3 linked regions of the Homo sapiens genome follow. The protein of the gene in region 2 purifies or fractionates together with the protein of the main gene of each other region. This does not show direct contact. Each region holds a gene or a part of one and is shown on either strand. Other genes may lie near its edges. The genes, in order: VPS39, GDF3 and PPP4R1.

Region 1 (4,428 bases), on a different chromosome or scaffold from region 2:
CTGATTTGGGTGACATTTCAGCAGAGAACTGAGTGAAATGAGGAATGAACCATATATACAAAGGCAAGTGAGTGCCAGGCCAAGGAAACAGCAAATGTAAAGGCCCTGAGGTGGGTATGTGCTTTGTGCATTGATGGAACAAAGAAGGCTGTGTGGGACTGGTACCAGAAAGGAGTGAGAGGTAAGTACACAGAAGACAGGGAAGAAATCAGGGCCTGATCATGTCAGATGTTGCCAGACAGGGTGAAAACTTTGGAACTTATTCTAGTTGTGATGTGATACCATGAGAGGGTTTTGAGTAGAGGATGGAATCAGATTTAGGTTTTCAAAGTTTCACTCTACCTGGTAGACAAAAAACTGAAAATGGCACACTGGCAAATATAGGGTGATCAATGAGAAGACTACTACAGTAATTCAGGTGACAGATGATGGTGCCTTCAAGAGTAGTAATCATCAAGATAGAGAGAAATGACTGGATTTCAGATTTATTCTAGGGGTAGAACACACAAGATTTGCTGATAGATGGGATACAGTGTAAAACAGAATGAAAGAAGTCAAGAACGATTCCAAAGCTTTTGGCTTTAGTCAAAGAGGTAAATAGAAATGCCACTTGCTGAGACGTAAGATACAGGAGGACAGGCATGTTTGAGGGGAGAGGAATCAAGAACGGTTTTGGCTATGCTACTGGACATCCAAATGAAGATGCTGAAAAGGCAGCAGGATTATACAACTTTGGAGTTTAGAAAGAAATCATCCTCATCATGTTCTCTCCTGATTTCTATTTCCCAGGAGACAGAGTATGTTGTCTCTAAGACATTTACACCTCAAATACTATTTGGCCCTGTGTGACCTGCCTCTGGAAGTTCCTGGACGAACTTTCCATCCAAAGGCACAATGTAGTTAAAAAGGGGTAATGACTAGAAAGAGCAATAATTACTGCTGCTCAAATCTGGAAATAAAGCACTTTTGAAGCAGGAGGCAGTTAATGGCCTCTTGTAACCTAATATGTACCTAAGCACCTTAGGAACCAAAGAGCATTTCTCCTGTTCGGTGGGTGATCAAGGAAGGCCAAAAGCTACCTATTGTTTCAAAACTGTGTTCCTGAAAACCACAGGTGCAAGGAATCTTTACTGTGACAAAGTGGAGTTGGTGAGAGTCTAGGAGCACTATGTGCTAATGGTCCAACAGGAGATCAGAGTCAAGGATTCTGACGAGCTAAGTCAAGTGTAGCCACAGCTGCATTAATCCCTTTCAGAAACATATGTCCTTAGCTGAGTTGGGTACCCCCTCATCCATGTTGCAATAATAGGCAGCATATGTCTCTAGTATTATAATCTGTTCACGTGTATTTGTCCCCCAGTGTGTGTCCTAGGAGCACAGGCACTGTTTCTTATTCATCATTGTATTACTGTCCCAAGCAAAGAGAATGGCCCGTGTAGCCACCTAATAAGTATATCTGATGAAGCAATGGGGGAATTAATCCTTTCATGCAGTGTCAGGTCTTTCATTTAAAAACTTTTTCTCCTCCTCTATTTAAATGTTTAATGAGAGCATTTAATGACAGAAATTGGTTTTCTTGAGATGTCTGGAGGAAGTAGGATTCTCCTCTTAACCCAAAGGACTAGAACTGCTTACTGTGGAGGTATGATTTTAAAGAGACCCAGAGCTGCTAAAGGAGGAAGGGTGCACATTAACATGAAAATTCTTCGTGAAAGAACCCTACAGAAGAAGTCATCAAGAACTCTGCAAGGATGACTCGGTGACACTGTGAACAGCTGACGCACATGGTATCAGACACCACCAAGATTCCATAAGGCCCATCATGGTTACCTATCTAGCTCAGTATAAGATCTGATTAAGGGATCTGAATCATCTTTTTATGGTCCTTGATTTCTAGGACCTAAACATTAAGAGGAAAGTTAGAAATGATTTCCTTGGTCTTTGGCGGCTGGTATCAAACCAGTCACTCACGGATAAGAGCACAATGTTCACCGTTATCCCTGAAACCTTCATTTGTATTTCAGAGCACACAAGAGATGTCTGTCCCGGCCTTCTGCACTAGTCAATCCCAAAAGGACTATGCTAGTTTTTATGGGTTAGGTTTCAAGACAGTCTGGAAACTCTTCCGCCTACAGTTAGGTAACTTGGACACTTTGGATATAAGGTAATCAACCGCTTGGCTAGATTCAAAGGTTAGCTAACTACATGAGTTCCCTACAGGAATGAGAAATGAACGAATGATCACTAAGGGGAAAAAAAAGCATATGGTGTTAACTTGTTCAATGCCCCCAAAACCAGGGTTGACTTTCATCTAGAAAACAACACAAACATCTGGACAACTTCAAGCCCCTGGCAGGCTGAGAACTTCTTACTGCTTTGACCCTCTAAAATGAAGTCTTCGTGGGAATCAAAATGGGCCAAAGCTGAGCACAACTAAAAAGGAAAGCTCATCCTCCCACTCTGCACAGAGAGCAAAAGCAAGGGGAACTCCCCTAAATGACTGGATCACTGGGATCACCCAAGTAGCCCCACAGACATCGATGTCTATAGCCGGTGGTCATCTCTCTGCCTTCTCTCATCCTAAGCCCCTCTCGTGTAGCATCCAACCGAAGCCCACACGGATGGACGCCTGTCCACTTCCCCGGCCTCAGAAAAGATCCGGACCGCTCCTGTGCTGACTCCGCCTCGGCCCCGCGGCCCCTCGGCTCACCCCAGGCAGCCAGACAGTCGATTTGCAGAGGCAGCTTTTCTAGGATCGGCACTGGCTCGAAAGCGTCGTGCATGGCGGCAAGGGGAGAGTTGCCACCGCCGTCTCGCCCAGAGTGTTCCGGGCCGGGCTGGGGTCCGGAACGAGTCTGGGCTAAGGGTAGACCGGGATCCGGCCAGGAACCCCCCGGCTACAGGCCCTTCAACAACACAGCCATCGTCAACCCCGGACTTCCTGCTAGTTAGGCCCGCCTCTTCCGCAGCCGAAGTCCCGCCCCTTCCTCCCGGTGCACTCTAAATGAATTGTTTTGTTGCTGAGTTGCCATCGTCACTCTGGACCCATAGCTACTCCATCCCGAGTAGCCATGGGCTTACCATAGAAGGAACAAACTCTTAATCTTAGAACTGCTTTAGGCAGTGGGCGTGATGGTTAAAAACTCGGCCTTTGGCGTCGACCTCAGACGGAGATCTACCAATTAGGAAATTAGCTGTGATTTAGAAAATTTAATATTTCGATGCCATACTTTCCTAATCTGCAAAATTTTTGTAAATACCTGTGACCTAGTGTCGTGAGCGCTTAGCAACACCTGACACCCACTAAGCTCTCAGTAAGTGGTAGCTTTAGTATTACCATTATATCCCAATTAGTACAAGCACCTTACCTTAATGCTTTCATGGTTGTTCTAGGCCAGTGGTTCTGAAAGTGGTTCTAGACCAGCAACAACAGCAGTAGCAGCAGCACCTGTGAACTTGTTAGAAATGCAAAGTTTCAGGCCCATTCCAGTTCTACTGAATCTGAAACTCGAAGGGAACAGCAACCTATGTTTTAATAAACCCCAAGGTGAGTCCATGCACTTAAAAGCTTGAGAACCACCATTTTAGGTTAGGGTTGTTCAGCGATAGCACTACCGGCATTTAGGACAGGATAATTTCTTGTTGGGGGAGGGGGCATGTTCTGTACAATGTAAGATGTTTAACAGCATCCCTAACTTCCACCCACCAAATGCCAGTTATCTTCCCCACAGAGGTATAAAAATGTCTCTTTTCCGTATGTCCTCTGGGAGGCAAAATTACCCTGAGAACCACCATTTGAGGCCAATGCTTTTCAAATTTAACGTGCATACAAATCACCTAGAGACATTGTTAAAATGCCTCTTTTGATTCAGTAGGACCAGAGTAAGACCCTCAGTTGAGCACCAAAAATCTCCCAGATGTTGCTGGTCCCTGGATCACATTTTGAGTAGCAAGAGTTTAGGCAAGAGATGATTCACTAACTCTTGGAAGTCAGTGAAATAAGCCTCCTTTTAATTTGATGACCACATTCCTACCAATTCAACTTTCCAAAGCTGTGTCTTACATCCTAATATTCCTTTAGGAAGGTGTCATGGCTTTTCCTCCTATAGGACCTGGGACCTGTACTGTCTGCGGTTACCTTAGTATTCCCCTTGAAGACTTAAAAAACAACAAAGTTTGGGCTGCAAGAATGATCTATATCTGGTCATTTCCCCCTAGGAAAACATCGTAGGTCAAAAAATTAAGCATTTGGGTTTAAAGCAAAAATGTAAAAGAAAAAGGGTAAGTCTGTGATATGAAGTCAAAAAAACTGGTCCTGGTCATTTTATTTTTACACAATATCAGTTTCTTCATATGTAAATTAGGAATACTTGTCCCATCTTTACCAAATGCTGTTCTGATAATCAAGTGAAAAGTACTTTCAAGTAG
Region 2 (4,393 bases):
AACTCCTGAGCTCAAAGGATCCTCCCACGTCTCAAAGTGCTGGGATTACAGTCACGAGCCACTGTGCCCAGCCTCTCCTCATATTGAAGTACAATGTGATTCTTCGATTTTTGTCCATGGATGCCCCTCTTCTGAAGTTACAAATGTGCTCTCCCTGTTTTCTAAGCTAACTTTCCTGCCTGAATTTTCAAATTTTACCTATTCCTCTAGGAAAAGGCCCAATACAGTCTACTTTTACTATTTGCATCTTCAATTTCTCCCTTTTCACAAATAACTCATTTGGCCTCTAATGCCATCATTTTGTTTGGTAGAATGACTTCACGCTTGAGTAGGTATTTTCTCTCTTTTTCTTTCCCCGAGATGGAGTCTTGCTCTGTCACCCAGGCTGGAGTGCAGTGGTGCGATCTTGGCTCACAGCAACCTCTGCCTCCCGGGTGTTCAATCGATTTTCCTGCCTCAGCCTCCAGAGTAGCTGGAATTACAGGCGCCCGCCACCACACCTGGCTAATTTTTTTTTTTTTTTTTTTTGGTATTTTTAGTAGAGACGGGGGTCAGGGGAGTGGGGGGAGGGCCTTACCATGTTGGCTAGGCTGGTCTCGAACTCCTGGCCTCGTGATCTGCCTGCCTCGGCCTCCCAAAGTGCTGGGATTACAGGTGTGAGCCACCACGCCCAGCCTTAAGTAGGTATTTTCTGAGGTCATTCAGCTTAGGGAGAAATTACAACTCAAACCGAAACACTCTTAAGCACCCCACCACCACACCTCTTCATTCTCAAGCATCATTCAAAACCTAACAAAATTTGGCTGGGCATGGTGGCTCATGCCTATAATCCCAGCACTTTGGGAGGTCAAGGCAGGCCATTGCCTGAGCTCAGAAGTTAGAGACCAGCCTCATGGTGAGACCTCATCTCTATAAAAAAGTACAAAAATCAGCCTGGCGTGGTTGCGTGCACCTGTAGCCTGTAGTTCCAACTACTCTACTCGGCAGGCTGAGGTGGGAAGATCGCTTGAGCCCAGGAGGTGGAGGCTGCAGTGAGCCGAGATTGTGCCACTGCAGTCCAGCCTGGGTGACACAGCAAGACCTGTCTCAAGGGGAAAAAACAAAAAGAGGAAGAACAAGAGGAAGAAGAAGAAAAGCCTGAAGTACTTGACCAGGCAAATTCTGAGGGAGTACTTCAGGCAGCCTGGATACAGCACGTGTGAGGATGAGACAAGAGTGCATGCTCTAGAAGGAATAGACTACTATGAGCTTGGAGTTGAGTGTGCAAGGAGAGGGTGTAAAAGGTGAGACTGGGGAAGTAAGCAGCAGGGTCAGAACAGGCAGGGCATGGTGGGTCAACTCTTGCAGAATTTTGCAGACGAGAATTTTACGTGGAGGAGCAGTACGACTCAATACGCATTTTTAAAAGGTAATTCTGGGCTGGGTGCGGTGGCTCAGGCCTGTAATCCCAGCAGTTTGGGAGGCTGAGGCAGGCGGATCACCTGAAGTCAGGAGTTCAAGACCAGCCTGGCCAACATATAGTGAAACCCTGTCTCTACTAAAAAATTAAAAAATTAAAAAATTAGCTGGGCTTGGTGACACACGCCTGTAATCCCAGCTACTTGGGAAGCTGAGGCAGAAGAATCACTTGAACCCAGGAAGCGGAGGTTGCAGTGAGCTGAGAAAGTGCCACTCTACTCCAGCCTGGGGGACAGAGCGAGACTCTCAAAAAAAAAAAAAAAAAAAAAAGGCAAACTTTATCTTGTATTCTCAAGGCCATACACAGTTCCTGGCTCACCATAGGTATCCAATAAGTGCTTCTTGGACAAATAAATATTCAAATCTTCTCTCCAGTTGCTGTAAAACTAACCAAGGCTCTAAATTCTGCATCTGAAACACCCGGGAGGTTGTATAGACATGCAGATTCTCAACACCCATTTCAGACTTTGAATAAGAATTGGGTGGGGAGAACTAGGGGCAGGAATGGGGTTGGAGGATCTACTGTTAATGGAAGACCTAAGTTATTTGGTGGGTGGTCAGTTTGGGAAAGTACTGGATCCCACTCACTGAGATCCTTTTAAAAGGATATGACAGTTGTATATATTATTGCTCTCTATTCACAAATCTAGAATAACCTTTGCCACCCAACAAGAGTAGCCAGGAGGTACAAATAAGGGAAGCAGGACTCCTGGGCAAACCAACCTCAAAATTTTCATACCCTGCTTGCCACATGGAAGACGGCAGGATGTGTATATATGGGCTGCAGGGTGGGAGACTGAGCTCTGATTCCTCCCTCACCTCTTTCATCTCAACTGAAGCACAAAGCAGTTGATTCAGAAAACAAAAACCTATTTCAAATCCTGACTTTGTTCTCACACACTAGCTGTATGATCTTGAATAGATTACAGGTTACCTACTGTCTGAGCCTAATTTCCTTACTGTTAGGAACTTGATAAGAATATCTAACTTCCTCTCAGGATCGTGGCTGGAATTAAATGAGACAAAATATGAAAAATACCAGCACAAGGCCATCAGTAATTGTCATTTCCTATTGTCCTTTCCTTTCTTCACACCACCCAGTTCCAGATGTTTTTCTGGATAACACTCTATTTCCTTACCTTGGTCTGGGAGAAAGCGAAGTACATTCCCGCGGACGCCCAGCTCCTTTACGTAGCATAAGTCTCGGGAGACCCCAGTGGTCGCTGCTGCCTCGCGATCCTGGAAAATTTTCTTCAAGATATAAGGCACAGGTTGGAACTTCTGGGGTGAAGGCGCCTTATCTAAGCCCAGAAATTGGAGAAAGACATATTCTTGAAATTGGACTGCCTGGCCCAAAGCCAGAATTAACAGGAAGCTGAAAGCCAAATCTGGCAAGAAACGAAGCATGGCCTCTGGAGTGGCTGTCAGACCGGGGAGAGCTCCACTGCCAGACTGCCCAACAATTCAGAGGCTGCTAATTTATCTGATGTAAGATAATCAAGTGTGAATTGCTCTCTTCCCAGCTCCTCAAAGGCCATTGGATGTGAAGAGGGAATTTTTTTTTCTCTTCTCTTGCTCTACTCTTCCAGGAAAAAGTTCACAGAACAAAGATTACCAATGCATGGACATAAATTCTACAACAATGTGAGGTTGTCAGCAGTAGACAGAGTGAAAAGGAGACATGCATTTATTCATTTAACAAACAGTTACTAAGCATCTATTATGTGCACGGTGCTGAGATAGGTGCTAGGAATAGAGCAGTGAATAATTCATAGACTTGTAATTAATCATCTACATAGACCAAGCTTGTCCAACCTGCGGCCGGAGGGTCACATGAGGCTCACGATGGCTTTGAATGCAGCCCCACACAGATTCATAAACTTCCGTAAAACATTATGAAACTTTCTTGTGATTTTTTTAAGCTCATCAGCTATCATTAGTGTTAGTATATTTTACGTGTGGCCCAAAACAATTCTTCTTCTTCCAATGTGACCCAGGGAAGCCAAAAGATTGGACACCCCTGGATTAGACAAATACTCAAGTAGATTTCATTATTTTATTTTTATTTTTATTTTTATTTATGTATTTATTTATTTTTGAGACAGGGTCTCGCTCTGTTGCCCAGGCTGGAGTGCAGTGGCCTGATCTTGGCTCACTGCAAGCCTCGACCCCCTGAGCTCAAGAGATCATCCCACCTCAGCCTCTGGAGTAGTTGAGACTACAGGCATAGGGCACCACTTCCAGCTAATTGTTTTATTTTTTACAGAGATGGGGCCTTGCCATGTTGTCCAGACTGGTCTTGAACTCCTGGTCTCAAGCAGTCTTCCCACCTCGGCCTCCCAAAGTGCTGGGATTGTAGGCATGAGCCACTACACCCAGCCGCCAGCCTTGTTTCTCACCACCCACCATCCTTAGTGTGGATGCTCTAATTACATTGACCTATTTGTAGCTCTGTGAGCTCATTTCATCTCAGAGCCTTTACACAGACCAAGTTCAAAGGTCACCTCTACTTCCACAGTTTCGACTCACCAAAATAGATTGAGATACTTCTTTCTCCCACTGAGCCATACTTGGGCATCCATTACAGTTTTTTTGTTTTTTTGTTTTTTTTGAGACGGAGTTTCGCTCTTGTTGCCCTGGCTGCAGTGCAATGGCACGATCTCAGCTCACCACAACCTCTGCCTCCCAGGTTCAAGCAATTCTCCTGCCTCAGCCTCCCTAGTAGCTGGGATTACAGGCATGCGCTACCATGCCCGGCTACTTTTGTATTTTTAGTAGAGACGGGGTTTCTCCATGTCGGTCAGGCTGGTCTCAAACTCCTGACCTCAGGTAATCCACCCACCTCGGCCTCCCAAAGTGTTGGGATTATAGGTGTGAGCCACTGCACCCGGCCCTCCATTACAGTTTCTGCAGTGCATTTTACTGTGTTTGCCTC
Region 3 (3,646 bases), on a different chromosome or scaffold from region 2:
AAAAAAAAACCCAGAAACTTCCTATTACATTTGACTTTATGATGTGCGTAATGACTTAACAATCTGTATATTCTTCTGATAACCATCACTGATGTCATATATCCTGGGAAATGTACTTGCCTGACCATCCTTCCCACAAAGACCATACCTGTCAGAGCAGGAGCAAAGTATTATTTTATTTCCACTGTGCTTACACAGTGCCTAGAAAAGTGTTCAATACCTACTGAAGGGGTTCAAGTGTTTCTTCGTTCAGTCCAGGGTTTTTAAAATTTTAACTGCACTGATAAAATAACCATTTCAGTTTTCCACTTTGACATAATAATTTACAATTATGTATTTTTTCGTATTGTGTGCAGAAGGTACACTTTCCTTTGTAAGCCTTTATGTCCCTTTCTAGCCCTGATTGTATTTCAAATTTAATGATTTGTGGCAACTTTAACAGAAAGCAGCCTTTTCTTTCTTTCTTTCTTTCTTTTTTTTTTTTTGTTTTGTTTTTTTAAGACAGAGTCTTGTTCTGTCAACCTGGCTGGAATGCAGTGGAATGACCTCGGCTCACTGTAACCTCTGTCTCCCAGGTTCAAATGATTCTCGTGCCTCAGCCTCCAGAGTAGCTGGGATTACAAGCATGTGCCACCACACCTGGCTAATTTTTTTTGTATTTTTAGTAGAGATGGGGTTTTGCCATGTTGGCCAGGCTGATCTCAAACCCCTGGTCTCAAGTGATCCTCCCACCTTGGCCTCCCAAAGTGCTGGGATTACAGGCATGAGCCACTGCACCCAGCCCAGCCTAATTTTTTTTTTTTTCCTTGAGGCGGAGTCTTGCTCTGTCGCCCAGGCTGAAGTGCAGTGGCCTGATCTTGGCTCACTACAACCTCCACCTCCTCCCAGGTTCAAGTGATTCTCCTGCCTCAGCCTCCCAAGTAACAGGGACTACAGGCGCACACCACCATGCCTGGCTAATTTTTGTATTTTTTTGGCAGAGCCAGGTGTCACCATATTGCCCAGGCTGGTCTCCAACTCCTGACCTCAAGTGATCCACCCACCTCGGCCTCCCAAAGTGCTGGAATTACAGGCATGAGCCACCGTGCCTAACCCCGGCCTGACTTTTAATAAGCACCTCTTATCAGCCACATTTTGCATAAGTGGAAAAATGGCATTTGACTTACAGCCACAGCTTCTGTTTTCACATCATCATTGCTATCTGGGGCTGTCAGCTCTATGAGGACAGGGCACACTTTGGTCTCCACATCAAATCGTTCAATGAGCTCCTGCTCCAACAGAGCCAGCAAAGCTGCCTGACTTGTTTTCCTCACCTAGGAGAAAAATAACAACACAAAGAAAGTACATATGCAACATGACAAAATTCTATCACTTGATTTTTATAAACAAAGATTTCTCATCTCAAAGGGACCCATAACTGGCAAAACTCCGCAAATAAATATTTGTGTTTATTTTCTTCAACTATTACAAAGACTACAGAACTTCGTAGATTGTGCTGTAACAGAGGAAGTGGACAGAGCCATCCTGGTAAAAGATGCCTCACAAAGTAACAAACCTTTTAAGGGACCGCTAGGAGGTTACCAAGTGAGAGTGCAGTTACTAGGCATTGTCCATAATGGCATTAAAGGGATCTACTAGATTTGTCAGACTCTAAACACATCTTGTCTAAGATAAATATTCATTTTTGAAAAACAGTAAAACATTCCAAAGAGAACACTTAGGCTCGGCTATTCTCCATATATTACACTACGTAAATTTCTTTTAAGAACATATAAATGGTACTCTTACCTGATTATTCTGATCTGCAAGGTATCTAACCACAATAGGTAGTAAGAATTTTGAAAAAGCATATGGTATTGAAGGCCGGTTTTCTTGACAAAACAGTGCGATGTGAGGCACCTGTTCCATCAGCTCCGCTCTCACAGTTGGTTCTATTGAAATAACGGCAATGTGAGCAAACATGTTCTCCTGCAGCAACAAAACCTTTATCTGTTCTTGAGGGTACTTAGGAAGGCTATGGACTTTCATCTTCAAAATATAAAGGACTTGAGACAACATCCTTTAATTCTGCATTCCTTTTCAGAATCATACACAGATCAATCCCATGAGTGAAAGGAGGACCTTATCTTCAATCCAAGCTTCTGTTGTTCACAGTATGCACTGAGTATCTAACCATTTCTTAACAATAAATAAATTTATTCATCACCTACACTGTGCCACACTGTGCTAGGGGTTAAATATCCTATCTGATATTTACATCAATACTCTGACACATACATAGTATTATCCATAAATTCCACTATTTAAGAACCTACTAGGACAAGTCATAAAAACTAGTTCCTAATCTCAACTTAGTCAATAAATGAAAGATATATAATTAGACTTAACTAAGACTAAAAATGGGTAAATGAAAATTAAAGATGACAAATATTTTTTAAACACCTGAAAAGACCCAAGTGCATATGGCAAATTTAAATGTGAGAAATATGGCATTTCAAATTTCTGGGCTTCAAAAAGATGAAATGTCTAAGAAGCAACAGTAGGAAAATCAGCTAGTTAGCACGGAACAAAAGTTCCTACTGCACATCATAAAGATCAAAAGTACTAAAAGATAATATTAAATGTTCAATCTTGAGGTGGGAAGACAAAATCCAAAAATCAACCGTAAGACCAACTAATTATACATTATAAAAACTTTATTATAGGCTGGGTGTGCCTGTAATCCCAGCACTTTGAGAGGCCAAGGCGGGCAGATCACTTGAGGTCAGGAGTTCCAGACCAGCCTGGCCAACATGGTGAACCCTGTCTCTACTAAAAATACAAAAATGAGCCAGGTGTGGTGGTGCATGCCTGTAATCCCAGCTACTCCAGAGGCTGAGACAGTAGAATCACTTGAACACGGGAGGTGGAGGTTGCAGTGAGCCAAGATCGCGCCACTGCACTCCACCCTGGGCAACAGAGCAAGACTCTGTCTCAAAAACAAACAAACAAAAAAACTTTATTATAGATAACAGATACCAATACTCAGTTAAAAGGGAAAACAGCCTGGGAGCAAATTCATGTATAACAGAGTATTAGGAAGTGAACACACTGTTCAAATAAATAATAAGAAAGAAAATAAGGATACAAGTAGGCAATTCATAGAAGACATGCAAGTGACTGAAATACAGACAGACATGATGGATTATCAGTAACAAGTCATTGTATCGGACCTAACTAGAACTCTGATACCCATTATTATTATGCATTAATAAAGCTACATTAAAGTAAATATGTATGAATGTGTCTACTAGGATTTCAGATATCAACAGAGAAATTAACATACCTTTAAGTAGATAATACTGTATTTTACAAAGCTCAGAATCTTATCAACAAACCAATATCTGGAATTTCTATTATACTGTTGTACCATGTGAAGTTGGCCAGATATGAACAAAATAGAGTGTTTCTGTTTTGAAGAAAAACCTAATTTTTAAAAAAGTAAACATACAGGCCTCTGCTTTTCTCATGGATGCTGAATTTTCTAAGTTAACACTGACAATTGCTTATATTTTTGAAGCAAAAGGAGGACACAAGTTATGGTTTCAGTTAAAAATGAAATCAGCAACTTTTCTTTCTTCAAAGCCCCGCTTAGGCAAATAGACTA

Evidence for each region.
Region 1: the proteins of GDF3 (region 2) and VPS39 purify together in Homo sapiens (affinity purification with mass spectrometry; one large-scale study listed by BioGRID and IntAct). This does not show direct contact.
Region 3: the proteins of GDF3 (region 2) and PPP4R1 purify together in Homo sapiens (affinity purification with mass spectrometry; one large-scale study listed by BioGRID and IntAct). This does not show direct contact.

What each region holds. Positions count from the first base shown.
Region 1 is NC_000015.10:42,205,371-42,209,798, forward strand, and holds the start of VPS39 (vam6/Vps39-like protein), read right to left. Parts: upstream 2,935-4,428; 5' UTR 2,784-2,934; coding exon 2,711-2,783; intron 1-2,710. UniProt on the Homo sapiens protein: Regulator of TGF-beta/activin signaling, inhibiting SMAD3- and activating SMAD2-dependent transcription.
Region 2 is NC_000012.12:7,692,864-7,697,256, forward strand, and holds the start of GDF3 (growth/differentiation factor 3 preproprotein), read right to left. Parts: upstream 2,913-4,393; 5' UTR 2,866-2,912; coding exon 2,598-2,865; intron 1-2,597.
Region 3 is NC_000018.10:9,586,923-9,590,568, forward strand, and holds part of PPP4R1 (serine/threonine-protein phosphatase 4 regulatory subunit 1), read right to left. Parts: intron 1,932-3,646; coding exon 1,789-1,931; intron 1,314-1,788; coding exon 1,167-1,313; intron 1-1,166. UniProt on the Homo sapiens protein: Regulatory subunit of serine/threonine-protein phosphatase 4. May play a role in regulation of cell division in renal glomeruli. The PPP4C-PPP4R1 PP4 complex may play a role in dephosphorylation and regulation of HDAC3.